Regions from separate parts of the Homo sapiens genome. Here region 1 is linked to region 2. The links come from fine-mapping of genetic effects on gene expression. A gene starts in region 2. The other region holds a variant in brackets. All regions are shown on one strand. Distances are between the middles of the regions. Region 1 overlaps POPDC3 (popeye domain cAMP effector 3). Region 2 holds the start of POPDC3 (popeye domain cAMP effector 3).

What was found.
Region 1: its variant is fine-mapped to the expression of POPDC3 in left ventricle (GTEx, PIP above 0.99). The same link has a PIP of 0.9 or more in tibial nerve.

Annotation. Positions count from the first base shown.
Region 1 is chr6:105,151,018-105,167,406 of GRCh38, forward strand. It overlaps POPDC3 (popeye domain cAMP effector 3), which reads right to left. Exons shown (of 4, transcript NM_022361.5): 2 at 10,408-11,143; 3 at 8,694-8,802; 4 at 6,883-7,734. The coding sequence starts at 10,892. The coding sequence ends at 7,453. It overlaps POPDC1-AS1 (POPDC1 antisense RNA 1), which reads left to right. Exons shown (of 4, transcript NR_037157.1): 3 at 15,527-15,685. Among named protein-coding and RNA genes, the nearest start is that of POPDC3, 21 kb to the right of the region's middle. The variant T/C (reference allele first, on the strand shown) is at 7,126.
Region 2 is chr6:105,171,584-105,187,972 of GRCh38, forward strand. It overlaps POPDC3 (popeye domain cAMP effector 3), which reads right to left and starts at 8,431. Exons shown (of 4, transcript NM_022361.5): 1 at 8,250-8,431.

The DNA of each region.
Region 1 (16,389 bases), 21 kb before region 2:
TAAGTTCCTTATATATTCTGGTTATTAATCCCTTGTCAGATGAATAGTTTGCAAATATTTTCTTCCATTCTGTGGGTTGTAGAAATGTCTCTTAAATGGCAGGATCAAATGTTTGTTTTCTGCCATCCCTGGGAAAAGGGTGTGAGAGCCATATTATTTAATTTATCATTTAAAATGGAATTATAGTCATCCTTGGGTATTGTGGGGGATTGGTTCTAGGACCCCCTCAGATACCAAAATCTGAGGATGCTCAAGTCCTTGATATAAAATGGCCTAGTATTTGCATATAGCATACAAACATCCTTCCATATACTTTAAACCATCTCTAGATTACTTATAATACCTAATACAATGGAAATTCTATGTAAATAGTTATACCATATTGTTTTTATTTGTATTATTTGTAGTGTTGTATTGTTATTTTAAATTTTTTCCAAATTATTATTTCCAAGAAATAGTAATTCTACATCATGCAGGAAAAAAAATGCTATTATTACAGGCCTTACATTTTATTTTGGATCCAAGGTTGGTTGAATCTGTGGCTGTGGAACCCTCACATACAGGGGGCTGACTGCACTTATGAGGGACATGATAATCCATTACATGTTTCTGTTAAAAAAGAAAATTTAATTGGGAGGCCATTAGGCTGAGGTGGCTCCAGTGCCTTGGGCTCCTATGTAAAAAAACCAAAGCCCAGTGTAAACAGTAAAACAAAACTTAAGCTTAACCAATCAGAAATTGCCAACCAGCCTCTAACTAGGGACTTTCCACACTAACCACTGAAGTATATTTTCTTTGTCTTGCTTCTGGACCTTATAAGTTTCTCTCTTGCCTGTCCCCCTACAGTGAAGCTCTGAACCACTTGTAGCCTAGTGCTGCCTGATTCATGAATTGCTGTCTGCCCAAATAAACTCTTCAAAATTTTGTTTTGCCTAAGTTTACCTTTTAACATTCCCAACAAAGAATCTCTAAGCAAAAATCATTTTGTAGATTTTCAATTCAATAAATGATCTTGGAACCTAAAGACTAATAACTGTGCATCCTGAACAAGTGCTGTTCAGACTCACTTCAACAGTATCAGCAAGAAAAAATGTGACTTTGAAAGTCATTTAAGGAAATAATAATTCTATATCATAAAAAAATGCTATTATTATAGTTCTTACATTTTATTTCATGAGAAACTACTAGTGGCACTGCATAATTGAAATCAACTTGAGAAGGGAATTCAATGTTAAAATTCAAATACAAAAATAGATGCAATTGGCTGGGCATGGCAGCTCACGCCTGTAATCCCAGCACCTGGGGAGGCTGAGGTGGGAAGATTGCTTGAGCCTAGGAGGCAGAGGTTGTAGTGAGCCAAGATGGCACCACTGTACTCTAGCCTGGGTGACAGAGTGAGACTCTGTCTCAAAAATAAAGATGCAATTAATTTCCTTCTATGCAATGAATATTTACAAAGCAGCTACCATGTGCCAGGCATTGTTCTCTAACAGTGAAGAAGATATAGACTAGTGGAAGAGTTTCAGAGTAGAATTCCTTTTCTCATAAGATGGACATTGTGCTTGTGCATTGGTTAAACTTTTATCTCAAAGGAACCAACTTATATTCTGCAGTAATATCCTGTTCTTCAGAAACCCCACTTGTATTACACCAAAAATTTCTTCCACATCTTGGAACCCTTACCTGGTGCTATTTGAAAAAACTTCAGCTTTTACAACGTTTCATTGTACATAAAGTTTTATTCTACCTGAGAGAAGAAAGAGAAGTAGCACTACAAGGGGCACTGAATTAATTTTCTTATAAGAAGGAGTGGATGGCACATAAAACATGATGGGCTGAGATAATGAAGGCTTCTCTCTAGGATACCTAGAGAGAGACCTCAATTGAGCTGTGATAATATCTGAATGAAATTGGACAGAACCAAAACTTTAAAAACTGATTTAAACTGCATCAAAGAAACTTGGCCTTGTTCTTTCATTATGTAAACTTATAGCCATTTAAAATAGAGTTACACTTAATGACACATTTTACTTGTAAACCACATTTGAGCTCAAGCTACTGCTGATGATTCAAAAGAAGAAAGGTTCATGTTTGAATAATTTTTCCTCATGCTGTCACTAACAGATTTGGAAGATGTGTAACTAGCATTTTGGCATTGAATTTTCCTTCAAGTCAGACTGGGGACATTTTAGTACTCTCCAAGTCAGGAACACAGTCAAGAACATGGTCAGTGCAGCATGAAAAATGCAAGGACACTGATTTAGAAGAATTAGGCTTAAGCTGAGTGTCACCACTGTTTACTAACTGTGATTCAGTCTTTCTGATTTTTATCCATAAAATGGGATCCTTCCAAGGAACAAGCAAATGAAATCACATGTAGGCATGTGCTTCATAAACTATGAAGTGTTAAATAAATGTAAGACATTGTTTTGTAATTATATAATTTGTGAGGTAAATTTACATTTAATAAGAGTAGTAATCTCAATTCTGATGGCCTGAGACACTTGATATTATATCAAGTGGAGCTAAAATTCTATGAAATTATGTAAAAACAAATATTTTAGAATCTTATAAATAAAATAAAATTACTCTTATTAAGATCACTAAAGCTTGAATTGGAATAAAAGAAAAAAGGGGACAATTACAGTTCAAGACACAAATTATCAGTTCTTAGGGAGAAAAGTGTTTTAAAGTTCCCTGCCAATCTTTAATAGCTAGTAGGTTTTAAAACTAGTCAAATTTAGCATAGCAATAAAACTTGAAGTTATGTTCAAATCATGCTGATATTATATGCAAATGTACAATTCAGCATTACAGTCATGGTAATACTTACGATGAGATGACTAAGAGTTAAAGTAACCAGTGTTTCAGTCTTGCTGCATCTTTTCACAGCTGTGAGAGTTCCGGTCTTGAAATAATACACAGTTCTATCAAATTAAACCTGCATTTTATTATAATAGGTCTATATCATACTAATGCTTATTTGTATTTTTGATTGATATGTATGCGTTAAATTTTAGTAGAATGAAGAAAAACAGTGGAATTAATTGGACCCATTGATCTCTTTAACTTGTATAAAAACTGTCTTTTACTAACAAGTAATACTAAATTGGCACATCATTTCTGAAGTTTAATTTCTCTAACAATGTGCAGTATAGGAAGAACATGGAACCCGATTAGAAAGTGCCATCCAATGCTGCATGTATATTTATGGCTTTTGTCAAACCAAGCATCTCACATACATAAAATTGTAAACGTATTGCTTTTACAATAATATGTACTGTCTGCCTAGTTTGTTTTTCTTATGGCTCTTGTCAGCTGAGGAAATTTCACTTTGTAACTGCCCTGTTAATTCTGCCTTTCTGGGTCTGAGCAGTGTAACAATGTGGCATCCAGAGCTTATCCAGATGAGCGGAGAGCAAATGAATTTCCTTCTGCTCCCCTGTTGAAGAGGAGAGAAAAATTCTTCAAGCTGTAAGTGCTCAGAGAGCATCATACTATTCTTTACAGTAGACTAATCTCAAGACCATGAGTTCCTAGGGGCTGCAGAGTCCAAGGCAAATCCCACTGATCCTTTCTCATATTTGCACAGGGGTCAAATCAAGTTCAGAGGAATAGCCCCATGGGGATGGGAAGCCTCCAGATATGCAGGTAAAGGAAAGGCCATGCAAGAGAGAAGCCTGCAGCCTCCAGGGACTTGCTTTGGCGACTGGGGTGTGGGGTGTTTACGGCCTCATTTTGTGCCAAAGCCACTCTCTTTTCCCGGACTCACTACTTCTCAGAGTCCCTCCTGACCATGAAAATTAGGACAGAAAATCACAAGGCAGTCACCCCAATTTCTTAAAGTCTAGGAACAACTCAGCTAGGGCCAGCTTCCTGGGCATGCGACCTGTGCAGTCACAAAGGGCTCCAGGCTTACAAGAGCCCCGCACTTGGCATAATGCTCTGCCATCTCCATCTTGAAATTCTTAAGACTCTTTGAACAAAGAGTCCATTTATTTATGAATATCCAGATCTTGTATACAAAGCCATAAAGCATTTTTAGCACAAGAACACAAGCTGTTGCTCATCTTAGTGCACTCTTATCAATGACAAGAGAACCAAAGGATGGAAATAATTAGGCTAAGACTAAAATGAGCCCAATTTTTAATAAAAATTAAATTTTAGGGGCACTATGATACAGAGGTCAGAGGTATTTTTCTAGGATATGTGTCATTTCTGCTTTCCATCTGGTTTGATTATTTTGAGATAGTATGTGGTTTGCTAGACATTTCAAACCAGACATACAATACAGCTACCTAAAAGTCACTGTAGGTTTTTGATTTTTTTTTTTAATAAAGTGAGAAAACCTGAGTGCAAACCTAGGTATTGGATAATAGCATATCTGTTAACACCAAGGAACAGTGCCAGCCCTATACAGAAGTGAAGACTGTGAAGTTTCAAAGCATCCCTTTACCTCCTCTTTCAGTATCCCTTTATCCCATTATGTTTGTACCCCTTTCTCCTTATAGTAAAAATAGATTTCTGGGAAACTTACATATAAAATCTTGTCCCCTCTGCCACTGAGTTGAGCCAAAAGTCTACATCCCATTTCTATGTGGCTTTGTTCTCTGCTGACTTTAATGGTTAGAAAGCTATCTGATAATTAATCCCTGTAAAATTATTACCTGGTAGTACTAACTTAAGATGTGACTTCTACCTGGGATGCTCTGCATTTTAATACTTTATAAATATCTCAAAGTCTTAAAGATTCAAGAAATGAATTTCTCCCAGAGCCATTGTAAAGCCCACTGACAAGCCAGTGGGTGCTTCCTGAAGGCCTTTGATTGCATCTGGCAGACAGCTGCCTTCGTGTCTGCTTGGAAGAGCTGCCCATGATGGCAATGTGTGGCCAAGAAATAGAAGAAACCATTCCAGTGATTCCTTTAGTTCATGCTAAACTTGAATAGCTCAGTAGTTCATCCAGACTAATGATTTACATCTTGTCACATTGTCCCACTTATGGTAGATGCTAACATACAGGAAAAGCAACGTCCTTTACATAACCCCAGTACTTCCTCTCCCGTTCTCCTTGCTGACTTTGCTTCCTAGGTCACCGAGAAAATGAAAATCACTGGAGAACTTTCACAATCTCTCACCACATCTCCCACTTGCCAGCAACTACTCTCACAGATACTCTTCTCTTTTCATTCATGAAGAATTGTCCATATTTCTCTTTAAGGCCACTGGATCCCATCACCTGCTCAAGGTCATCACTCCCGCAGTTCACTCCTCACTTATGGATTATTTCCATCTGCATGCAAATGCACCATCTTATCTGAAAATCAATAACAACCCCCTCTCTTGACCCCACTTTCTGCCCAGGCTACTGATCATTTCTATTTCAGTTCACATCAAAACTCCTTGAAAAACTTACCTACCCTTACTGTTCCAACTTCTTGCCTCTCATTCTCCTTCAACCTGCTTCAGTCGAGTTTTTGTTCCTGCTCACTCCACCAAAACTGCTCTTGTTAAGTTCCCCAGTGACTTCCATGTTGCTTAACCCGATGGTTCATTCTCAGGCCTCTCAGCCACATCTGAGACAGTTCATCACTCCCTTCTCCCAGAAATTCTCTTTGCTTGGCTTCCAGGATCCCAGGCTCTCCTGATTTTCTTTCTACCTCATTGGCTGCTCTTCCTCAGATCCTTTGCTGATTCTTCCCCCATCGCTTTGTCCCCTTAACAATGGAGTGCTCCAAGGTAAGCCTCAGACCATTTTTCTTCTGAATCTACACTCACTCTTTTGGCCATCTCATGGAGACTCATGGCTTTAAATACCATGTATATGCTAAATACTCCCAAAGCTGTCTCTACAGCGCAGACTTTTCTTTGAAACTCCAGGCTCATATCTCCAGCTGTCTACTCTACTTCAGCGTCTAGCAGGCATCTCACTCTTAATCCTCATTTTACTTTCCAAGTCCACTCTTTTCTCTCTTCCCCCTAGTCTATTCTCAGCAGGCTAGCCAGAGTGATCCTATTAAACCATGGGGCAGATCATATCACTCTTCTACTTCAGACCCTACAATGGCTTCTGGTCACTCTTAGAAAAAAATCAAAGTCCTTACCATGACTTATTTAGGCCTTACCCAGTCTGCCCACGGTTACTTTCTGTTCATTCTGTGCCAGCCAAACTAGCCTTCCAGCTGCTCCTGGAACAGGCCAGTCATGTTCATGCCTAAGGGCCTGCTCAGTTGCTGTCCCCTTTGCCCAAATTGCTCTTCCCTCAGATATCTGCATGGATTCTTCCATTGCCTCTTTCAGGTCTTCATTCAGACATTCCTTTTTGTGGATACTTTCCTTGACCACCCTATTAAAATTGCAATGCCCTTTCTTACCCACCTTCTCTAATTTATCACTCCCCTTGGTACTATCACCTTCTAAACATTTACTGATTTACTTTATTATGTCTCCCGCATCCCCAGAATGTAAGCTTTATGAGGGGTGGGATCTCCATCTGTTACCTGATGTATCCCCATGCCCATGTCAGCCATAGAAGGTGCTCAATACACACTTGTTAAATATTTGATAATGTATCTCTGTATCAAAGAACATAGTCTGCATGTGATCTTCAGAAAACCAGTTTTCCAAAGGAAGGGATCAGATCTCCAACTAGGGTTCTTTCTTAAGCTCTTCACAAAGCTGAAGCACTCGCTGTGAGGCAGACCCTTGTGTTTGTGCGGTGGGCTGAGCATTCCCTGTGAACCCTCGCTGCCCATTCACACCACTGAAAGCTCTTTCTGCTGAACACGTGAAACTGAAACACCGTGCAACATTTTTACTATTGGTTCAGGAGTACTCTTTTGACTTAGTAATGATCAGGCAGCTTTGTTTTCCAGGAAATGCTTCTTTTTAAATGTTATTTTATTTGTAGCAATAAAATAGGCTTCAAGATTCACATATTATTATCTCTTGCATTTATTCTACTTTTTAGTCGCATCAAGTAACTGCACATTTAAAATAAATAATTGCTTTCACTGGAGGTTGTAGCAAAAAAGTGAATTCCGGAAATGCCTATGTGGACAGTAGCAACCCACCCTCAGGCTGAGAATACTTGCTGGCTCTTTCTTGAGAAGCAACTCCTGAGTC[T/C]ATAGGGCAAGACAATGCATTTGAGTAAATGTGAGAAAAGAATTGAGAAAGTGGAATTTCATTCTCCCAGTTTTGATGCAGAAAAGGGCAAACTGCCCATAGTTATCCACCCCCTCCCCAATTATAACAATGAGAAATACAAGAAAAATTTGTAAAGTTTATTCACAATGCAGTTGTTGAAAGGAATAAAACAGTTGGCAATGGCATCTCGCTTCTGAATTTGATTTATAAAAACATTAGGGAGCTCTTTTTTTGTATTTTGCTATTTCACTGGGGAATGATGAAGAGAGAGTCTTTTTTTATACTTATAAATTTCAGACTTTGATGTCATTTATCACAGTATCGTCTGGAATTCTGAAAATGTTGTGTCAGGGGTGATCTGCGTATTTCTGGAGTTGACATTTGATAGAAGTTGGGTAGCCGAATATCATAGTGATATCTTTTTCCTATATATACCCTGTCATTCAAGGCATAGAGTTTATCTGCAATGTCACTGCCAATTAGCACTGAAAAAAGGCGGGAGATGTAGCGATGCTGAGCAAAGAGCAGATATAATTTCTTTCTCCTCCAAGACACATATCGACAATCAGTTTCTGCAGTGAGGGTTACCTAAAAAACACAAGACCACACATAAACAGATGTGGAAGCAAGAAAACTTCTGCCACATTTTTAGTACCCCAATTGTTAAATTAATTTCACGTGCTGCCTTTTTTTTAGGTTGAAAAAGCCCACTGACCTACAATATATTGCAAAAATAGAAACTACAAAATTCGTTACTACATACGTAATTTATAATATGAATAATCACAATGTTCTAGCCATCTTCAATCTGTCTGTTTTTCTAAGTTCCAGTATCTACATTTCTTTTATTGAAGGGAGAACTACTTGATCTTAAAAAAAAAAAAAGTTGGCTGATGTTACAGAAATATTTCCAAGTCACTTCTGAAGACTGTGGACATTTAACCCTAATGCAGTTTCTGCAGTAGAAAACAGAATTTATATACCTAATTTGCATACATATTTGAGTTTGTTGCATACACACATATATTTGTTAGAAAACTGTGTAACAAAATAAATGAAACCTGCTGAAATGATTATCTTTCAAAACTGCCAGACGTGGCAGCAGAGTAATGACAGTAAGTTTAGCATTCTGTTGCTGTAAAACAACTGAAATCCACTGGCATTTTAAATTTTAAAAATCATTTATTTTTTAGTAAGTGCAGTTTTTTGTTCTTGATGTTTTCTAGACGTCGCATTAGCAGTGTTTAGTCAAATCTCAATTATATTTTAATTCCTAAATACGCAGTTATGCAAAGTAAAGCTTAAAGTATTGATCACAGCCTCCTTCCTGTCATATGTAGCACCTGTTCTTCTCATCGCTGGACCTATAAAGTGGCATTAATCATCAAGAGTCCAGCAGAATTGGGAAAGTCATGTATGCTGCAAAGTACATTCCAAAGTCTTAAAATATTCTTGTCTTATCCACTGTTGTTTATTTGTTTACTTATTTTTAAACAAACATCTGTTTGAAAGAGGGAGTGCTAACTGTGTGTTCTGGTATCCCTTACCTGAAAAATGCCTTCCTCTGTGGGTCTCAGTGAATCCCACTCAGGAGAATCCAGGAACTGAAGGGGGAAAATGTAATGCAGAAATTCGCCATCAACTGTCACTCTGATCCTATCAAAACACAAGAACAACATTTATAAGGGAAGGAGAAAGAGAGCACATAATTGGGGAGGGGTGGGGGGTAGAGGAAGTGTATTTCAGATCCCTGATGACTCTTGCCCTTTATGATTTTGAAAGGCAAAATATTAAATTCATACATTATAATAAGTGACATAATGTCCTGTAAGATTCATGTTATCATGTTCCTTATACAGTCAGGATTCTGGAATATTGAGTGAAATTCATCAGAAAATTCATCAAGTTGTACATTTATATATGTCCATTTATGTGTGCATATTATACTTCAATAAAACATTTTAATGGACTTTGTCAGATTTTAAATTAAGTAGGGAAACATTTAAGAACATAGAGGAGTTCTGCAAATACCTCTGTAAACCAAATTTTTATTTTTTATTTATTTTTTGACAGAGTCTCACTCTGTCGCCCAGCGTGGAGTGCAGTGGCACAATCTGGGCTCCCTGCAACCTCCTCCTCCCAGGTTCAAGCGATTCTTGTGCCTCAGCCTCCTGAGTAGCTGGGATTACAAGCGTGCACTACGATGTCCAGCTAAGTTTTTTGTATTTTTAGTAGAGACAGGGTTTCAACATGTTGGCCAGGCTGGTCTCGAACTCCTGACCTCAAGTGACCCACTAGCCTCGGCCTCCCAAAGTGCTGGGATTACAGGCGTGAGCCACCGCGCCTGGCCTGTAAGCCACATTTTTAACTTTTTGAAAACCATGAGTAATCCCATTATTGTTTCCTCTCCCAAACTTTGTTTTCAAAGTTTATTTTATTTTATTTTTGAGATAGAGTCTCGTTCTGTTGCTTAGGCTGAAGTGTAGTGGCGCGATCTCAGCTCACTGCAACCTCCGCCTCCCACGCTCAAGCAGTTCTCCTGCCTCAGCCTCCCGAGTAGCTGGGACTACTGGCATGTGCCACCATGCCTGGATAATTTTGTTTTTCTATTTTTTCAGTACAGATGGGAGTTTCACAGTGTTGGCCAGGCTGGTCTTGAACTGCTGACCTCAGGTGATTATCCTGCCTCAGCCTCCAAAAGTGCTGGGATTACAGGTGTTTTTGGGATTACAGGTGTTAGCCACCGCACCTGGCCTGTTTTCAAAGTTTAGATTTCTATATATGTTCCTGAAGTGTCTCCCCAGCCTGCTTCTCATGGGCAATTGCTAGAATTTACTGAAGAAAAAAAGATAATAATAAAATTTAAATGTTTTCTGTTACTTAAAAGAAAGCCCTATCAAAGAGTCTTTAAAATATTTTGCACGCCAATATAAGTATTCTATTAATTCAAGCTGACATCATCCTCTTCTCGACTTTCAGTAATTAGGAAACAAATATCATATCACATAAACAAATTCATACTTTATGTAATTTGATTTCTAAGATGAAATATTAAGGCTCTTGATTATTTTCTGCTTCAAGTAAATAATGCCATATATTCTAAATGGCTATGTCTGTGACTCAAGTATCAAAGACTTCCTCAAGCCTCAGGGTGCTAAATGCCACCCAGGACTATGTGATACTGAGATGGAAAAATATAGTGGAAAGAAACACAAACAACTAATACTTGAGGAAAGACATGCAAGCACCAAAGGTACAAACCTTCCTGAAACAAGCAAGGAGAGTTTATCAATGGAAGTTTTCCCCTGCATGGCATAACAGTGTTCCTTTTCCAAAGTAACCACTTCAGAGCTCAAAGCAATCGTTCTGAAGACAGGCAAAGAGATCCCCAGGGGCTGGAAAAGGGAGCTGTACAACACTTGGAATTCTCGGGCAAAGGTTATGCTGCGAACTTGATATGCAATATGAACAAATTGCATGAAGCAGATGACAAACAGTACAAAATTCCAGGAAAATATGTCAGCTGCACAGACATCTACCCAAGCCCAGACAGCAGAACAGAGAAAACCCAACCCCAGCAAACTGAAGACATAAAGGAGCCCGAAGAATCCACTGCCACCCATGAAACCTACTACAAATAAAATACTGGCAAGATGATAAATGGCTCCTTCGGCCTCTTGCTTCCAGGTTGTGCAGACTGGGTGTTCATCTATTAGGTTCTTCCATAAACTTGAATTTCTTTCCATGGCTGTATTACTGCCTGCTTCACTTTTCAGTTGACTTTAGATGACACTGAAACAGGTAACTAAGTCCTTTGGTTCTCCATCATGAGAGTTTTGTGCAGTCTTCACAAAACCAGAGAAAACGGACACTGGAGTTGATGCTGATTAAAGGCTTCGTGTGTACGGATCTTGAAAAACTAAGAATCCCATGCTCGCTTCTTTAAGTTCATCTGGGCTCCTGATTTGGATCCAGTCTGCAAATATTTTGGTATTTCCTATGCAAGAGAAAAAAAGATAAAGGATCTAATTAAACAAAAAGGAGAATTGTGGGGTATATTTAATGATCAGCAGCATTACTTAGCAAGCTGACCTCCCATTTTCTATGAAGTTAGAGTATTTTAAGCACAAATGCTGTTGGGTGTTAAATTTCTATGGTATAAAAAGTATATTTATTAAAATTAGCTACATATTTTTCAAGGTAGCTAAGTGCTCTATATTAATCTCGTCTCTATGGGAGTGATTCAGTGTACCTCACAATCACTCGGGACAGTGACTAAAAATGCGGGCCGGGCGAGGTGGCGTGTGCCTGGAATCCCAGCCCTTTGGGAGGCTGAGGTGGGTGGATCACTTGAGGCCAGAAGTTCGAGACCAGCCTGGCCAACATGGCGAAACCCTGTCTCTACTAAAAATAGAAAAATTACCCAGGCGTGGTGGCGTGCGCCTGGGATCCCAGCTACTCAGGATGCTGAGGCACAAGAATCACTTGAACTTGGGAGACAGGCTTCAGTGAGCCGAGATCATCTTACCACTGCACTTCAGCCTAGGCGAAAAGAGTAAGACTCTGTATTAATACATATATATATTTGCAGATTCATGGACTGCTTCCAGATACATGAACCAGAATCATTGCGGGTGGGGCCCAGATGTTTGTATTTTAAGCTCCCCATGTGATTCTGATGTGTTAATCCATGGTCCTCCATGGCCCACCCTTTGAGGGATACTGTCTGATAATAGATTATTCACTCTTTACACATTAATTTGAGGCTTAGAGAGGTCAGGTAATTTATCCCAGGCCACACAGTGGTCACTGGCAGAGCAGAACTTTGGCGCTCATGCCCATATGCTGGGTCCAATCGTGTGGCCTCTCAGGAAAGATTTTTAAATTTGGCATGATAAGGAACCCTACTATATCAATAAACATAAGAAACATAATTAGAAGTCACATTCTAAGAGCATTAATTGACTATGGAAATATTTAATAAATTAGATTGAAATTATTTGAGAAACAAATGTACTACTTTGTTGTATTAGTGGTTATTTCAGGTTAAAGCTTGCATCATATGATGAAATAAATATTAATATTCCTGTTACTTACATATTTATTTATCAGATGGTCAAAAATATTACCAACTCTGTTCCTCTGCACATACATTCTCTACCCTTTCAGCCATATGGTGGAAATGCTAATATGTAATCTGAGTCAGGAGAGCATTAGCCATGATGACAGAGCTACAGGATATATGTATCATTTGCCACCCAGTTTCCTAACAATAAATGATTTCAGTGTAAAGCATTCATGACATTGATTTTTTAAAACCATGGTAACATTCAAAAGCCTTGAACTTGTGTGCTATATTTAGTGTTTTATTTTTGAAATAGATTATTTCCAGCACACCTGTTAATAAACTATCAGATATCACAGATCTTGCCCCATAGGAGAAAAAATACAGAGGTGAAAATGACTTAGCTGGAGTAAAAAATGGAACAGTGTAATCACCAACAGAAGTAGAAATGGAAATAAAGGAGCTGTTGTTGAAGTTCCTGATTTTTCATCTTGGATAGTGATTCTTTTCTCAGTAAGTAATGACTTCAAGAACACTGCCAGGTGAATCATTTAAAAAAAAAGAAAAAAAAAGCTTAGACTTACAACTTATAGTCATATTGTTGTTTTTGCTTGTTTTCAAATACATTTCAAACATGCTGCATATCCCTAATTATTCTCCCCATCAATCAATCTACGAGATGATGGTGATGAAATTGAAGACAGGCCAGCATCCTGAACATGTTCAATTTCTCCTCTTTTAAACAAAGCACAAAATTTTATTCTACTGGGTATTACAACAAAGAAAAATTATTGTTCAAATACAATGAGTAGTGAGAACTGCAAAATACCAGGCTGCAAATGTCAGTCTCCCTGCTGTTTCAAAACTAGGGTATTTTAAATCAATCAATTCTTCAGGATACCAAACACACCCACGAAAGCCAGTTTAAAAAGATTTGCTAGTGGAGCTCTGAACTTTGGTTTGAACTTCCTTAAAAATTTATAATCCTCAGCGAAATGTTAAAATGATGCTAATAGAGAAAGGCCATGTAAAACGTTCGTGGCAATTCAGAAGGGAACTTCTGGGAATCCTGTCTCCTTAAAAATCTTGATTTGTAGGATATATTGGGGCTTCTGCATTCCAGGGTCATGACCCATTATGATTATAAGGGGAACTGTGCTTCCATCTTTACTAATCTACTTCGTTTCATTCAGCTGTTACCAAACCATCTTTTTATCCTTGATACTGTACTGCTCAATGCAGCGTGCTGACTTGCCCTGATTAAATTACTCCACACCCAGCCCTTCTTCACTTGTGTTTTTATTTGGTCACCAAAACAGATATGCTTTATTAGAAGTGGAAGAACTGACAGGGGCAGGTGATGAGCAGGAGTGTCCTTCTGACATGTGCCAGCAGCACTATATGAATGTCCAACATGATTCATCAACCAGCTGTCTGCCTTAAAGGCCTGTAAGCCTGAGGTCATGTTTTGCGTAAATAAATGCTGACATGCCAAAGTGGCACAATGGATTTCTTTCCTAAGCACTAGAGTTGATCTTCACTGCAAAGTAAGTTAGCACACTGAGCTACAAATGATGAAGACAAACTTAAGTGCAAATAAACACAGTTGTTCCAAGCTCATCTGGGTTTTTTTCTCTTTAAATTGTTAAGATTACGAGTTATAAAGGAATAGGAAATGTAAATGAAGATACAAGGATGCTCAATGAAATGCAAAGTAAACCTGCTGGCAAATTAGCTAGAAACTGCATTTATTGCAACAGAACTTCTGCATTTATTATCTCATTGCCACGAGGGAGGCAGAATCTAAATCATCATGTCCAGCTTACAAATGAGAAAAGAAGGGCACAGATTGGTTGAGTCTCTGGCTTCAGGTAAAACAGGTGGTGGCATGGAGCTCCAATTCCCGTCCGCCCCTCTTTAGACCCTCTCCAACATTCAGTGCCAGCTCTCAAGACTGTGAATCAAATATTAATGTTTTGGGGAACCCAAGTGGGATATTCTTCCAGGGCTGCTTTGCCAAGAAAATAAAAATCCTAACCATGGATATTTCAGACTTACCCTATAAGTTCTTGTACTGTTCAGTCTGTAACTCTTAGAATACTGCTGGAGACACAGAGAGCCGCTCATGAATAATTTGCTGTATTATTCAATATTGACTGGTTTCCTCTCCTAGACTGAAATTCTCAGGGGCAGCAGGGGCAAAGACAAATGCTTTTGTATTTCTGAGCCTTAGCACTCAATAAGTTTGGCTTAATACATTGGTACAGAAGTGCAAGCACTCTGCCTTCTCCCTTCTCACTCTCTATCCAATGTAACAGATATTGTAACATCTTCTGTCATCTATGGGCACAGAATTGGGGGGCTCCAAATGTCCAAGATGTTTAAGTGCAAAAACACAGAGGAGCTGGGGCATCACTTTTTCAAAATGCCTGGCACAACCCCAAATGCATAAGGGAATCCTTTTGTCTGTTCACAACCTTGAACTCCTTAAGAACAGTTTATTGCTTTGATTAAAAACAACAACTTGGGTAGTCAGTGGTATTGAGTGAGTTTTGGTTGCTAAGCAACCCACAAACTGAAAATTCCATCAATATTCTACTCATTAATTGGGATCAGCTCTCAACTTTGGCATGTGTTCCCTAAGCTAAATTATCATTTTCTTAGTTTTTTTGACTTGTCCTTGAGGTGGTACATTTACCCAGCAACTATGTGCCAGGCATATTTTTAAAATTATCTCATTTAACAACCCCAGGAGGAAAGTACTATTATCTCCATTTTACACATAAGAAAATTTAAATTCAGCAAAAAACTAAGTTGTTCAATGTCACATTGCTTATAATGGAACTAAGATTCCACCCAAGAGAAGGGTTCTAGTCTTAGCTGTATCCCTAGATAGCTATGTGATTTTCATCTCCTTAGACTGGTTTCCTCATTGGTAAAATGAAAGAATTGGACAACATCATAAGAGCTCTAAAATGACATGACTCTGTATGATGTGGAGTAGAAGATGATTCCAAACATGGGTCAAAATATAGAGCCGAGTGGCAGAACTGAATTAAGACTGCAGGTCTTAACACCAGGTGTTTGACTGGGGCCCAGCTCCAGAGACTGTTACTTAACTGGCCTGTTTTGTCGCCGGGGCACTGAATTTTTTTCACAAACTTCCCAGGGATTTTGATGTTCAACCAGGGTTAAGAAGTGTCGAACAAATCTAAGAGATAGGAAGGAGGTGACAGGTGGGGGTGGGGGAGGGAAAAGAGACACCAGAACATTCCACAGAATAAAGGATCTGGATTTTAATCCTTGTTTTTAAAGAGCCAGAAAGGTACATTTCCTCTTCATGTGTTCTCACTTCCATCCTTTACCTCGGTGAAAAGACGTTTTCCTTCCGTACACTCATCAGTCCAAGAGGGATGAAGCTTGTGGAAATTTTGCAGCAGCCTTCCCTGACCATGGTGGCCTGAAGTGCACCTTGTAAGCTGAGTTTTTAATGGCCTTTATTATCTGTCTACATAGCCTCCATCATAGATTGTGTCATACTGACCATTATGTATATTTTTCCTTTTTAAAGCATCACAATTTTTTAATTTTTTCAGTTGGGTTACATATTCAAGCATTTAAAAAAATGAACATAGATGGTTGTGTGTGTGTGTGTGTGTGTGTGTGTAGAATAACAGCTTTATTGATAGAGCATTGTGTGTGTGTATATATATATTTATATAAATATATTTGAAATTTTCCTCTGTCTAGCACAAAGTGGTCTTTAGTAAACATTCACTAATAAAGACAAGAGTGCACAGGTAGAAAAACAGTGTTTGAAATAAGCTTGGGATAAGGCTTAATAAATCAGAAAGCTCCTGAATCAACAGTTTAGATGTTGAATTAAAAAAAAAAGGGAAGCATGTATTAGACTATGAGGAAGAGGTGAAAGGATCTATTGAAACAGAGGAACGAAGAAGGGTTGAAGACATTTTGGGGTTATACAAGATCTTGAAGTTAGGGAAAAAGTCAGAGGAAAAAGGAACTCAGTTTTAGCCATGTTTAATCTGATGCTCTGAGTAGCAGAATTTACAGCAGAGGATAAGGGGTAGGATAAAGGGAGAGAGATTTAGCAGTTACTATCACACAGGTCAATGCTAAATAAAAACTAGGGTTGTTAAGATTATTGAAAAAGAGCA
Region 2 (16,389 bases):
CCACTTGAGCCCAGGAGGTCAAGGTTGCAGAGAGCTGTGATCACGCCACTGCACTCCAGCCTGAGCGACAGAGAAAGACTCTGTCTCAAATAATAATAATAATAATTATTATTATTAATTAAAAACCTGTCCTCATGGAGCCTGCATTTTAGTGAAATTCCAATGTTAACACTATTTAAGTCCAGTTTTCAAAACTGTGATCTATTTTAAATATTACTAACTAAAAATACACCTTATCTACAAATAAACTACCTAACACTTATTTCGTTTATTTTATTATATTAGAGATGGAGTCTCCTTGTGTTTCCCAGCCTGGTCTTAAACTCCCAGACTCAAGTAATCCTCCCATCTTGGCCTCCCAAAGTGCTGGGATTACAGGCGTGAGCCACTGTGCCCAGCCATTAAAACTCATTTAAAGTCAGTTGTTGCAAAGCCAAAATTGACAAATGGGATCTAATTAAACTAAAGAACTTCTGCACAGCAAAACAAACTACCATCAGAGTGAACAGGCAACCTACAAAATGGGAGAAAATTTTTGCAATCTACTCATCTGACAAAGGGCTAATACCCAGAATCTACAATGAACTCAAAACAAATTTACAAGAAAAAAACAAACAACCTCATCAACAAGTGGGCGAAGGAGATGAACAGACACTTCTCAAAAGAAGACATTTATGCAGCCAAAAAACACATGAAAAAATGCTCATCATCACTGGCCATCACATAAATGCAAATCAAAACCACAATGAGATACCATCTCACACCAGTTAGAATGGCAATCATTAAAAAGTCAGGAAACAACAGGTCCAGTGGAGAGGATGTGAAGAAATAGGAACACTTTTACACTGTTGGTGGGACTGTAAACTAGTTCAACCATTGTGGAAGTCAGTGTGGCGATTCCTCAGGGATCTAGAACTAGAAATACCATTTGACCTAGCCATCCCATTACTGGGTATATACCCAAAGGATTATAAATCATGCTGCTATAAAGACACATGCACACATATGTTTATTGCGTCACTATTCACAATAGCAAAGACTTGGAACCAACCCAAATGTCCAACAATGAGAGACTGGATTAAGAAAATGTAGCACATATACACCATGGAATACTATGCAGCCATAAAAAAGGATGAGTTCATGTCCTTTGTAGGGACATGGATGAAGCTGGAAACCATCATTCTCAGCAAACTATTGCAAGGACAAAAAACCAAACACCGCATGTTCTCACTCATAGGTGGGAATTGAACAATGAGAACACGTGGACACGGGAAGGGGAACATCACACACTGGGGCCTGTTGTGGGGTGGGGGGAGGGGGGAGGGATAGCATTAGGAGATATACGTAGTGCTAAATGACGAGTCAATGGGTGCAGCACACCAACATGGCACATGTATACATATGTAAAAAACCTGCACGTTGTGCACATGTACCCTAAAACTTAAAGTATAATAAAAAAGTCAGTTGTTGCATACTAAATTTTAAAGAAATGCTACATTTTAAAACAGTCTAAAGTCTTAATGAGATTAGAATCATTATCTTAAATTTCCTTTCATATCTGACCAAGTATTGATCAAGGATGCTCCACTAGTTGGTGGGTTTCCATGCATTACCAAGATTTAATATAAACTTGAAAATGAACTCAAACAACAGAAAATAAGCTGAGATTCCACAAAATAAATTCCAAACAGAATGTTTTAAAGTGCTTCTGTTTATCTCTTTTTCTCATGGAGGTTAAATTTTCTTTATAACATAGAGGAAAAGGTACTAGCTCTCCTTCATGCATTGTGACTTCCAGAACAATTATAATGTAACATGTGTTTGGAACTTGAATTCTAACACCACCCCTCCTGCATCTTGAATGGAGGAGTAAGTAATAATAACCAGCATCTGTTGAGTAGCAACCCTGTGTCAGAACCTGTGTGAACTACTACATGTATATTATTTCATAGCTCCAAAAATACTGGGGGCAGGAGGAAGGGGTAGTTATTTTCCTATTTTTCAAGCAAGAAAACCTCTTTAAGAAAGACTTGGCCGAGTTAGAATCCAAATATCCTCATATCTAACCTGCTTCTGTTTATACCATGCTACACTTTCATTTATAAATCAGTTACATTTTAATCATTTTGACAAGTACAGTGAATGAAGAAAACAGGAGAAATTAAAACAAGATAACAATCATTATGGAGAATAAAGATGAGACAGTGTGAGAATAATTGGTGTCTTTGAAGTAGAGAATTACAAAATTGGAAAGAAAAAGCATTCATAATGGGAAAAAAAAAAACCCTGAAATTAAGAACAACAGATTATTCCAATAGAAAGAACAGAAATAGAAGGAATGCACCAGGTTCCATGAAAAATTGATACAGAACTTAACAAGGATATAGCCTGAATTACTACACTTCAGGAATATAAAGGATACTTTAGGACTCCGGGCAGAAAAAGCAAATCAATTGCAAGGAAGAAATTTTTTCTTAGATGGAGTTTTGCTCTTGTTGCCCAGGCTGGAGTGCAATGGCACAATCTTGGCTCACTGCAACCTCCGCCTCCCGGGTTCAAGCGATTATCCTGCCTCACCCTCGAAAGTAACTGGGATTAAAGGCGCTACCACACCCGGCTAATTTTTTGTATTTTTAGTAGAGATGGGGTTTTACAATGTTGGCCAGGCTGGTCTTGAACTCCTGACTTCAAGTGATCCGCCCGCCTTGACCTTCCAAAGTGCTAGAATTACAGGCGTGAGCCACTGCGCCCAGCCAGAAATTTTGAAACCAAACTTAGACTTCTCTACAGCTACATTAGATGCTAGCAGTGAATGGAGCGAAGGCTATATAATCCGGAGGTAAGGAAACTGGCTCAAAAATGGTACAGCCAGCCAAATGGTCATTCAAGTACAGATGCTCCCCAATGTACAATGAACTCATGGTAAGCTGAAAATATCGTAAGTTGAAAACACACGTTTGACTTACAGTTTCTCAATTTATGACGATGATGTGTTTACTTGGGTGTAACCACACCGAAAGTTGAGCATACTGACTGTGTATTGTCTCTGCACCATTATAAAGTTGAAAAATGGTTAAGTCAAACCATTGTGAGTCAGGGACTGTCTGGAAAGAAACATGGGCATTTCAAACATAAAAAGACACAGGAAATGAGCCCTTCTTGGAAACAAACAGACACACTGACAAAATCTAGCCAATCAAAGGATGAATCAAAAGTTGATACTTGAGATGCCATGGTAAAAGAACCAGTGATTCATCGTGATTTCATTTAGTTATAAAACTAAGACTAAATTATATCTGAAATGGCCAGGCGTGGTGTCTCACACCTGTAATCCCAGCACTTTGGGAGGCTGAGGCTGGTGGATCACGAGGTCAGGAATTCGAGACTGGCCTGAGCAACATGGTGAAACCCCATCTCTACTAAAAATACAAAAATGAGCCGGGCGTGGTGGCACACGCCTGTAATCCCAGCTACTCAGGAGGCTGAGGCAGGAGAATCACTTGAACCCGGGAGGCTGAGGTTGCAGTAAGCCAACAATGCTCCACTGCACTCTAGCATGGGCAACAGAGCAAGACTCCATCTCAAAAAAAAAAAATTGTATCTGAAATGAAGTTTACAAAACACAATGCAAATGTTATAGATCCTCACAATATAAACATATTTTTAAAATTGGGGCTGGGTATAGTGGCTCATGCCTGTCATCCCAGCACTTTGGGAGGCTGAGGTGGGAGGATGCCTTGAGCCTAGGAGTTTGAGATCAGCCTGGGTAACACAGTGAGACCCTAACTCTCCAAAAAAAAAAAAAAAAGCTGGGTGCCATGGTGCATGCCTGTAGTCCCAGCTACATGGGAGGCTGAGGTGGGAGGACTGCTTGAGCCTGGGAGGCTGAGGTTGCCGTGAGCTGTGATCATGCCACTACAGTCCAGCCTGGGTGACACAATGCGACCCTGTCTCCAAAATTAAAAAAATAAAAAATAGGCCAGGCGCAGTGGCTCATGCCTGTAATCCCAGCACTTTGGGAGGAGAGGTGGGAGGATCACCTGAGGTCAGGAGTTTGACACTAGCTTGGGCAACATGGTAAAAGCCCATCTCTACTGAAAATACAAAAATTAGCCGGGCATGGTGGTGCATGCCTGTAATCCCAGCTACTTGGGAGGCTGAGGCAGGGATATTGCTTGAATCCAGGAGGCGGAGGTTGCAGTGAGCTAAGATCGCACCACTGCACTCCAGCCTGGGGTGACAGAGTGAGACTCTGTCTCAAAAAATAAATAAAGAAAGAAAGAATAAAAACTGGGATATGAGTAGAAGTGAAACTATAGGTAATGTAAGAGTGCCCAGTGCTCCATCCTTTATAACAGGGAGCCTCTGACTGTCTAAATTAATGTATGTTTAAAAAATCTTGATCTCAAGATGTATTCAGAAACTTTTCTCTTAGTTTGGAAGACTTGTTTATCTCTAAGAATGAAGAAATACTGATGTCAAGTTCAGCAATTCCTTCACTTTCACTACAGTTTCTTCTGTTAAAATATAATTTTTTTATTTTAAAAAGCATATATAGTATCATCCTGTTAAAAGAAAAACTTTAGATAAATTCAATTTAACAGTTTACCTGAGCAACAAACAACTCACGAATCAGGCAGCACTCACAACCAGAAGAGGTTCACAGAGCTCTATCCAGCAGCATGAGCTGCAGTTTTTATACACTGATGACAGAAGTAAAAAACCAAAATCACTCGATTGGCTACAGCTCTGCATCTGCTTTATTTGGGCATAATGTGATGAGCTGGCCGCCTGTGATTGGCTGAAACCTGGCTATTACAAAAAATACACTGTTGAGTTAGTTTTCTGTTCGTTTATGTACAAAGTTAGTTTTTCACACAGGGACTCAAAGTAGGGAGAAAGACTCAGGCTAATGGCCTCCTGCTTATTTAACAATTCTATTTTTTATAAAAGCATTTCTTTTTAATCTTTTGACATATCGTTTTTTTTTTAAGACAGAGTCTTGCTCTGTCACCCAGGCTGGAGTGCGGTGGCGCGATCTCAGCTCACTGCAAGCTCCGCCTCCCAGGTCCAAACAATTCTCCTGCCTCAGCCTCCCAAGTAGCTGGGACTGCAGGCGCACGCAACCACGCCTGGCTAATTTTTGTATTTTTAGTAGAGACACGGGGTTTCACCACGTTGGCCAGGCTGGTCTCAAACTCCTGACCTCAGGTGATCCGCCCGCCTCAGCCTCCCAAAGTGCTGGGATTACAGGCGTGAGCCACCAAGCCCGACCAACATATCCTATTTGTGTAAAAATAGAAAGACATACGCAATGATTTTCACTTCATGTTAAAGATGAATATATCTTGATAGTGGGATAGAAACTATTTTTACCTTTTTAAAAACAGCTGCATTATTTGTATTCTTATAATGATTTTGGGAAACAATATGGTGATTTTATACCAATGTAAAAAAATTTTAAATATAAACATTTAAAAAAATCCATGAACCCAACAACCAGAATTAACAACCATCAACACTGTCATATTTTCTTTAGATTGTTTCATAATAAAAAATATTCCACACAAAAAATTGAAGACTGCCATGGATTGTTCTCCAGGACCAGTCGCTGCCCATCCACTCCCTATATAGTACATAATTTATATTTCTCTATATTTAAATATTCACTAATTAAAAAATACAATGTAAAATGAAACAGACAATGTAAAATGAAATCCTGGACTAGAAATAACTCAAAGTGTGGGGTTTTTTTTTCAGATTCACACTTAAATTTTTTTCTGATAATTTTGAACACATACAAAAATAGAGAAAATAGTATACAACAAATTCCCATATACCTGTTACCCAGATTCAACAATTATCAAGATTTTGCCACACAGAATTTTGAAATTAAAAGCAAAAGCTGTTATCTACAGTTCAGCTGCAATTTGTTCAGCTAGGAAACAAACACCTTCCAAAGAAGACAGGAAGAACCAAGATCAGCTGTGCTCTTTCTCTGTGCAGGTACTAATTCCTAAAACAGATCCATTTAGGAGTCACAGCAACTCTGAAACCTACATACTATTGTCAGCATTGTTCAGAGTGGAAGATGAAGCTCAGAGGGATGGAGATTCTTCTGTAAGCTTAGCCAGTTGCTTGTCCTTCCAATACTACCCCACAACACCTTCCTTCATGATCCCATCCTAGCCAATTTCAGTGTGCCAGAGTCACTGGAGGTTATTATTCTGTTGAAGAACACAAAGTAAGAAAGTCTCGCTAAAAGTCTGTGTGAATCAATCCCTGGATTCTCTGGGTTGGAGGAGGACCCTGCATTTTTATAGGTAATTTCAGTCAGGAACTTTCGGTTATTTATTTAATTTAGAAAACACCTGATGTAATTTTCCTTGTAAGACTTTTTCTTATAACTACTTAGATAAAAGGGAGAAACATTTTCTCTCTTCCTTTAAAACAATCGAATCGGTGATTCGATATACTCTTCTATTAATTGGAGGGACATTCTCTCGAGGGAGCTCATAATCCCAACTGACCAATGACCATAATTACAAAATGTGATCTCAACTGCAGTTTACAGACTTTCAGATCTATCATGGATATTTCCAAAGCAGTTTTGAAATTTCTTGCCTGCCATGTTGCTTATGTGTTATGCTCACATACTGTAGCAAATGCTTCATAACATTCTTAATTCTTCCTGGAGACTGTTTCAAAATAAGCAGGCATCAGTGCTCTAGTGTGTCAACCGTATTAGTCAGTCTTGTGGTGAAAAGTATGGGACTTTTGTTTCCCATGACACATTTTTATTTAATAGCATAGAATGTAACCATTTAGAGGCAGAAGATGCACCATGATTCAGCTATTTTGAGGGACTGATATGATTAAAGAAACTCAACTATCAAATATTTCCCATTTAAATGTATAAAATTTTGAGGACAGAGAATATCTTAGATTTCAATTAATATTTGTATCCCAAACTCCTGAAGACACACACACACACACACACACACACACACACACACACACACACACAGATTTTTCAGGACAGAACCTCAGAGATATCTGGAATCTGGGATCAGCCAGAGCTCTTCATTTTGCGAATATGGAAACTGAGATCCAATTTTTTGTTTATATTTTCTGTCTCATGTAGTTCTTGTTTGGTTTTCTATTGTCACAAAGAACAATGCCAAGTTATTGTACTCTCACAAGAGGATATTTTCATGCAACAGTCCGTAGAATTAAAAACAAGAAGGAAAAAAAATAGCCACTAAACTTAGTATGAACAGGCAACAATAATTTTTTAAGGCTGCTATAAAACTCAATTGCAGTTTGTAGGCTTGCAAATTCAAAATATCTAACTACCGGAATTAGAGTGAAAAGTCAGGAAGCAACGAAGTTTAGTAAATCAAATTGCGTCCAAAAGTGGGCTTCTAATTCTACTTTTCCATTTATTATTTACAAACAGAATTTTTCACTTTCTGCAAATGTCTTCTGGCTAAATTTTTGGCACTGCCCCTCTTACTGTATTTTGGTTGTGCCTTTCATCTTTGCCTAAAATACAGACCCTCAAAACTATACCACTGTAACCGACATGGTGATAAGACAATTTAGGGGTTGGCAAATTTCTTTTTTGGCAGGGGGATCCCCAAATGGAGAAAACAGGTCCGCGCGACCTTTGATGAGGCAGCTTTTTTGTACCCCCAACTCTGTGAGAACAGTGTGAGAGCACTGACACCAGTCAGGCCCTTTGCTTACAGACCGGGGGCGGGAGTAGGGGGGAAGGAAACTCCCGGCGCTGGCATGACTTCCCCAGGACTGACAAGGGCCCCTAGGAACGGCTTTTCTCCCTTGCAAAACTGGCCTGTTTATTTCGGCTCCAGGGTGCCTGGGGCCAGAGTAGGACCTGCAGGAAAAGATCTGGGAGGAATATTCGCCCAGAAGCCTCTAGGGCATACGACTCGCGTTCTTCAGGGGTCGGCGCGGATAGGAACCGCAGCAAAGGATCCCCTAGACCTCCGAGCTGTGAGCGGCGACACAGCCGGGACCCCAGACCCCGGACCCCAGGGCGCGGAGTTGACCGGAGCCGGGAAGGGAGCGGCGCGGGCAGCGCGGGGCAGCGAGACGCAAGCGCTCGCAGGGGTCGGCGGCCCAGCAGAAGCCGCGCCCGCTAAGTTGCCCGAAGCGGCCGCGAGGTGCGAGGGTGCGGACAGCACCGGAAGGCGGCGGACGCAGCGCCCCCGGGCTCACCTTCTTACCTTTCCTTCCCAGCCCTGCCCGGAGCTTCAGCCCGGCGCCCGCAGAAGTTTCCCGGCGGAGCGCGCTTGACCCGGGTGGCCCGCGCGGAAGCCCTCAGCGTCCCCCTCGTGAGTGCCTCGCCGCCCACCCTGCGGCGCCGGGCGCAGCGTGACCGCAGCGGGCTCCGGAGCGGCGCGGCGGCGCGGGCGGGTGCCGGGCACGGGCGCGCGCCCCGGGGCGCAGCCGGGTGGGCGGGCGCGGCGGCTGCGTCTGGGCCGGGGCAGGCGGTTCGGCCACCGGGGTGCGGGGCTGCGGAGAATCCTAGCGGCCGCTACGGACCGAAGTTTCCAAAGATGCGGTTCCCCGAGTGTACACCGCTCCCGGTTGTAACATACACCTAGTATTCACAGTCACACTAGGCAGGAGCGATGGGCTGGCTGCTGAACCAAGGCAACTGCACGCCTGCTCTCTCACCCCCGCTCCACACACACCGTAAACAAAATGAAGAGGTAAATCACCATAGTGGGGACGGGAATATTAGGGTGTATTGGACAGAGAGAGAGAGAGAGAGAGGTAAATATAGTATTTTTTTTTTTTTTAGAGATGGTGTCTCGCTCTGTCACCCAGGCTGGAGTGCAGTGGTGATCACGGCTCACTGCAATCTCGACCTCCTGGGCCCAGGCATCCTCCTGACTCAGCCTCCTAAAGCTTAGGATTGCAGATGTGAGCCACCGCACCCAACCAATAAATACGGACTGTTGCATGAAAAATAAAATATCTATATTCAAATCAATGAACATCTCTAAAAGCAAATGAGTAAAGGGCATAGACAATCATAAAAGGAAAAAATTTAAAAACACAAATGACAAAAAGCTCATATCAGTAATAACCAAATGCATACAATTTTAAAGCAATGATCAGGTGCATTTTTTCTTCCTTTGCAATTAGCAAAGTTTTGTTTTGTTTTTGTGATGAAACAAATGTGAGGGTTGGTGACGACCAGTAAAACACGCCACTAATTTAAGAATGTCATCTCCTGTCTTCTAGTTCGCTTTCATTTTATATAACCATATTGATAACAGCGACTCCAGGAACAAGAATTTATTGAGCAATCAGTGTCTTTTTTGAGCCCCAGGGTAACCACAAAAACAGTGAATATAGATGGTAAAATTAACTCCCTTTAATTGATGCTGGAACTGAGGATCAAGAAATACACATATTCTTACACCCCAGAAATGGCTAGAAACCAGTTGACTCCTAGGCCTTTGCTCTTTCTCTTCATTGCAGGGATTTACTCAAATGTTGGAAATCCAGTTTGAACTGGATGTAGTCCATAGTGTGTGTGTGTGTGTGTGTGTGTGTGTGTGTGTGTGTATATATATGTATATATATATATATACACACACACACACCTTTAAACTATGGCCAGGGAAGTGAGAAGCCCATGAACTTTGAGGTCAGATGTACTCTGGATTTAGATTTTACTTGTTTAGTGTCCTACATTTTAAAAATTTAAGGATTATATTACTGTTATTTTTAATTTAAAAACTCAGAAGCTGTTACTGTTGCCCTGGATTCTTATGATCTCCCATGATAGAGATTAACAGAGATCACCAAACATAGCAGCAAAGGAAAGTGTATTCAGCTTGTGCGCAAGGGAGTCAGCACCAAGAAAGGCAAAGGAACGGACTGCTCTGAGGATAGTGTGTGGGTCAGTTTTATAGGGTCTTTCTATAGGGGAGGGTTACATCAGGGCACCTATAGGAGGAGTTTTTCTAGTGCTTGCACAGTGGCCCAATATGCTTTTTCATACATCATATGTAGCATTAGCATTTTAAATCTCCACCCCAGGAGTAATTTTTAGCATTAAAGTGAGGAAGGGGTAAATGTAGGTTGGAGTTTAAGTCTAACTGTACAGGCGGGGATCTGGGGAAGTCCCTAGCCCTCTGAAATAGGAGCTTGCAGTTAACAGCTTCTTGGGTGTTTTGTTACCTATTGACTGAGAGTTAGATAAGCTAGAGCTTGAGTAAGGAGCTTTTATCCTTTTTCACCACACCATCTTAAAATAGCTTTCCTGTCTCAATGCAACAAAGATATCCCTGTGTGACAGATTCTTCAGTGGCCCCAATAGTTTCTGATTCCCAGTACCTGTTCATGTTCATACCTGTGTTAGATCCCCTCCTCCTAAGAGGGGTTGGGACCTGTGACTTGCTTCTGAAAATAAATATAACAAAGGTGATGGATATCACTCCCATGACCACATTACATTATAAAAGACTGTCTCTTATGAACAGACTCTCTCTAGAGACTGTCCGGTCTGGCCTGATGAAGGCAGTGGCCATGCTTGGAAAGTCCACATGGTGAGGAACCATGGGCAGCCTCTAGGAGCTGAAAGGCAGCTTCCGGCCCATAGCCAGCCAGCAAGAAGTCCTACAAACTCCAGGAAATGAATTCTGTCAACAGCCTAAGTGAACTTGGAAGTAAATCTTTCCCCAGTCAATCATCCACATGAGAACACAAACCAATGACACCTTAATTGCAGTTTTGTGAAACCCTGAGCAGAGGATCTACTTAATCCATGCCTGGACTCCTAAATGCACCCCCCGACCCAAATTTTGAGAGTATATACAGAGTGCGATCCCTCTTTGAAAATTTTGTGTTAAATACTGCTGCCCTGCTGCATTCTGATTTTTCTCTTTCTTACTCCTTCACATGTATTTTCTTGCCTTGATCATGGCAGAGTTCTCTTTCTCTGTATCCCTCATTTTTTGTTATTATACATTTTATTGTATAAGTAATACATGAATATAATTCAATATACTAAGATATATTGCTTGGCATTATACTGTATCTGCCAACTTTCTTTTCCAGACAACAAAATACCTTGAAGTTCATTTATCTTTTCACATATATAGTATATATAAAATTCTTCTTTTAAATGACTATATACTATTATATTATTAGTATGTCTACCTGAAATAATGGAAAGGATCAGAATCCAGTTTAAAAGCATTTTTCCAAGTGAAAAGCTGAGAATGCCATTCAGATAACACAGACTCCAAAGGAATGGAGTTAGTGCTCCAAAGTTAAGATCTTGCATATACCAGCAGAAAACAAAGAAACTTAGTAGGATTATAACATTTTCTATACAAGGCTGGTTTATGACTTACAACAATTTAATTAGTTACAATTTGTTTTCTTTTCCATACAGCTTGTTTTCTTTTCCTATTTAAAAGAGTGTATTTAACATTCCATCTTAGACAATGTGATAGTCATGAAGTCTGTGTGAGAGAGGAAAGAGGGAAGTTACTCTATAATGAAGATCAACAGTTAAGAGAGAAGGGGTCTTCCCTGGTACCCTTTAGTCATTTATAACATTTTACAAAACAACATAGGTAAAGACAAAGGCTAATCTTAATCAGAAAAACAAAAGGTCACAGCTGCCTACTTTATAGCTGCCTGTTTACATGTGACTCAGATCCCATAATCAGATTCCCTTAAGGCTCAAAATGTTTTAAAGTTCCAACAGCTTAGATTTTTACTTGTTTTCACAAACATATCACAGTGCATCCATCCTCTTAACTATTTAGGTTTTTTGTAGTTTTTTTTTTTTTTTTTTGAGACAGAGTCTCATTGTGTCACCGAGGCTGGAGTAGTGTAGTGGTACAATCTTGGCTCACGGCAACCTCTGCCTTCTGGGTTTAAGCGATTCTCCTGCTTCAGCCTCCCAAGTAACTGGGATTATAGGCACCTGCCACCATACCTGGCTAATTTTTGTGTTTTTAATAGAGATGGGGTTTCACCATGTTGGCCAGCCTGGTCTTGAACTCCTGACCTCAAGTGATCCACCCGCCTTGGCCTCCCAAAGTGCTGAGATTACAGGCATGAGCCACCGCACTGGGCCTATTTCTAGCATTTGATATAGCAAACAAATGCTGTGTGCATGCTCCTTGGACACATATGTGATGATTTCTCCAGAATATATGCTCAGAAGTAGGGCTCTGAGTATGTTCATTTTCATTTTATTTGCTGCTGACAAATCGTGCTCCAGAGTGTCTGTGTCCATTTATATCCCTACCAGGTATGTAGGAGAGTGCTCCTTCCTGCACTCTCCTTTCTTCACAACCCCCAGTGACACCTGATATTACCCAACTTTAAAATTTTTGCTCTAACTCTCTTTCATATTCCTGTTCTCCTCTCTTGTTTTGCATTTTCCTTTTCTTCCTCCTCCTTCTCTCTCTCTTCTCTCATGTTTCCTGCCTCTCTTCCCTCTCTTTCTCAGTTTTTTCTCTTCTTTGGTTTGCTCTTTTGCTTTGTAAAAATTTATAATTTGTTTTAATTTAACATTTATAATCTTTAAAATTTAATTTATAATTTATTTTATAACCTGATTCATAATGACGATTATGAAAATATCTGTCAGCAAATATACATTTATAAAATAACTGCCAACGACTGCAGTGGGTTGTACATTAGCGGCCAACCATCTTTTAAAAAAAAAATTTGATGTAAAATAACCATAACATAAAAGTAACCATCTCAAAATGTACAAGTCAGTGACATTTAGCACATTGAGTGTTGTGCACCAAACACCTCTATCTAGCTTCAAAACATTTCATCCCCCCAAAGGAAAACTCCATACACATAAAGCCTTCACTTTCCAATTCCCCTTTCTCCCCTGGGAACCACTGACCTGCTTTTTGTCTCTATGGATTTTCCTATTCTAGATATTTAATATAAATGGAATCATACAACATATGACATTGTATGTCTGGTTTCTTTCACTTGGCATCATGTTTTTGAGGTTAATCCACATTGTAGCATGTAGAAACTTCTTCCTTTTTATGGCTAAATAATATTACATTGTTTATTATGCCATAGTTTGTTAATCCATTATCTGTTGATGAACATTTGGGTATTTCCACCATTTGACTATTGTGAATAGTGCTGCTATTAACATTTGTGTGTAAGTTTTTGTTTGAATACTTTTGGCTATACACCTAGGGGAAGAATTGCTGGGTCATATGGTAATTCCATGTTTATTTTTTTAAGGAACTACCAAACTGTTTTCTATAACAACTGTATCATTTTGCAGTCCTACTAACAATGTATGAGTGTTCTTATTTCTCCACATTCTTGGCAACACTTATTATTTTCTTTTTTTAAAATATAGCTATTTTAGTGGGTGTGAAGTAGTATCTCATTGTTTTGATTTGCATCTCTCTAATGACTCATGATGTTGAATGTCATTTCATGTGATTGTTGGGCATTTGCATATCTTTAGAGGAATGCCTGTTTAAGTCCTTTGCCAATTTTTCAGTTGGGTTGCTTGTCTTTCTGTTGTAGAGTTGTAAGAGTTCTTTGTATATTTTGGATACCAGACAACCTCTATCAGATATATGACTTTCAGCCCGGGATGGTGGCTCACGCCTATAATACCAGCACTTTGGGAGGCCAAGGTGGGAGGATCACCCAAGGTCAGGAGTTCATGACCAGTCTGGCCAACATGGTGATCCCCATCTCTACTAAAAATACAAAAATTAGCTGGGCGTGGTGGCGGGCACCTGTAATCCCAGCTGAGGGAAGAGAATCGCTTGAACCCAGGAAGCGGAGCTTGCAGTGAACCAAGATCATGCCATTTCACTCCAGCCTGGGCAACAAAGTGAGACTCTGTCTCAAAAAAAAAAAAAAAAAAAAAAAAAGATATATAACTTTCAAGTGTTCTCTCTCTTTCTGCGGGTTGTCTTTTCATTATCTTGATAGCGTCCTTTGATATCCAAAAGTTTTTTGTTTTGTTTGTTTTGTTTTTTGAGACAGAGTTTCACTTTGTCACCCAGGCTGGAATGCAGTGGCACAATCTTGGCTCACTAAAACCTCCACCTCCTGGGTTGAAGCAGTTCTCCTGCCTCAGCCTCCTGATTAGCTGGGACTACAGTTGCATGCCACCACACCAGCTGATTTTTTGTATTTTAGTAAAGACGGGGTTTCACCGTGTTGCCCAGGCTGTTCTTGAACTCCTGAGCTGAGGCAATCCCCCCGTCTTGGCCTTCCAAAGTGCTACGATTACAGGCGTGAGCCACTGCACCTGGCCATAATGCCCAAAAGTTTTTTAATCTTGCTGATTTCTAATGTATTTATTTTTCTTTTGTTGCTTGTACTTTCTTTTGGGATCATATCTAATAATTCATCGCCAAATCCAAGGTCATGAAGATTTATCCGTATGTTTTTTGTAAGAGTTTTAGAAGTTTATGGTTTAAAATATTATATTTAGTTTATTGATCTATTTTGAGTTAGTTTGTGTATATCTTGTGGATACATTTTGTATCTATATTTATATATTTATATATACCCAACTTCATTGTTTTGCACGTAGATATCCAGTTGTCTCAGCAATATTTGTTGAAAAGTCTATTCTTTTCCTATGGAGTGATATTGGCACCCTTATTGAAATCAACTGACTATAGATATATGGGTTATTTCTGGACTCTCAATTTTAATTTTATTCCATATATTGATCTATATGTCTATTCTTTTTTTTTTTGGGGGGGACACAGTCTCACTCTGTCACCCAGGCTGGAGTGCGGTGGCATGATCTTGGCTCACTGCAACCTCTGCCTCCTGGGTCCAAGCGATTGTCCTGCCTCAGCCTCCTGAGTAGCTGGGATTACAGGCACGTGCCACCATGCCTGGCTAATTTTTGTATTTTTAGTAGAGACGGGGTTTCACCATGTTGGCCAGGCTGGTCTTGAACTCCTGACCTCAGGTGATCCATACGCCTGAGGCTCCCAAAGTGCTGGTATTAAAGGCATGAGCCACCGCATTGCCCAGCCTATATGTCTATTCTTAATGCCAGTACCACACTGTTTTGATTACTTAGTAATTTTTTTGTTTTTTTTCTAGTAAGTTTTGAAATCAGGAATTATGAGTCTTCCAAACTTTTTTTTCCTTTTTCAAGATTGTTTTGGCTATTTGTGGTCCCCTGCAATCCATATGAATGTTATGATTTGTTCCACATCTTAAAAAGGGTCATTAGTATTTTAATAGGAATTATAAAGATCTGTAAAACACTTTGGGTAATACTGCTATCTTAAGTCTTCCAATACATGAACATTTATTTAGGTCTTCTCTAATTTCTTTCTGCAATGTTTTTCATATTCAATGTACCAGTCTTGTGTCTTCCTGACTAAATTTGTTTCTAACCCTTTTGCTTTTGTTTTCAGTGTCCATCTATCTGCCCCCCTCCTTTTTTGGTCTCAGAAGCTGACTCTTTCCCTCATTAAAATATCAAGTCCATTTCATAGCTATAGATCAAAGCACTTCTTGTTGCTGTAAAGACTCCATCCACTTCCTTACTCTTCCTGCAATCTTGCTCATAGAAAGTCCTTGAGCTTCTCTCCTCTTCACACACGTCAGAGGCAAGGCTGTCAGAGCTGCTTCCAGAACTGAGAGTGACAATTGTTTTTTAGGTAGGTAGGAGCCCAGCAGGCCTTAGGGCAGCAGGACCTGAGCCGGAGATTTAGTCAGGAGAATAGGAAACCTTTTGAGATGCAGTTCAGTAAAGCACACTACTATATGAAGTCACTCTGATGTAGAAGTTGCTTTAATATGTGGGAGTGGTGAATGGAATATGTCTAATTTTCTACCTTATAAGTAATAGTTGGCTTGTTGCTAAGGTTTTCATTAAGAAAGCACATTTTGAAATTTAGTAGCCTGGCCGGTCACCAGTGGCTCATGTCTGCAATCCCGGCACCCTGGGAGGTTGAGGTGGGTGGTTTGCTTGAACTCAGAAGTTTGAGACCAGCCTAGGAAACACGGCAAAACCGTGTCTCTACAAAACACACAAAAATTAGTCGGGTGCAGTGGTGTGCGCCTGTAGTCCCAGTTACTTGGGTGGCTGAGATGGGAGGCTTGAGCCTGGGAGGTTGAGGCTGCAGTGAGCTGTGATTGCATCATTGTAGTTAAGCTTGGGCAACAGAGCGAGATCCTGTCTCAAAATATATTAAATAATAAAATAAAAAAAATAGTAATTCAGTAGCCTAAAGGGATTTTTGAATCACAAATTATATATGAGTTCTAGAGGGGAGAATTAATGTTCAGAATTAGTAGAGAAATGGGAAGTCATTGAAAAATAGAAATACAAACCAACAAAAGTGAAGAGAA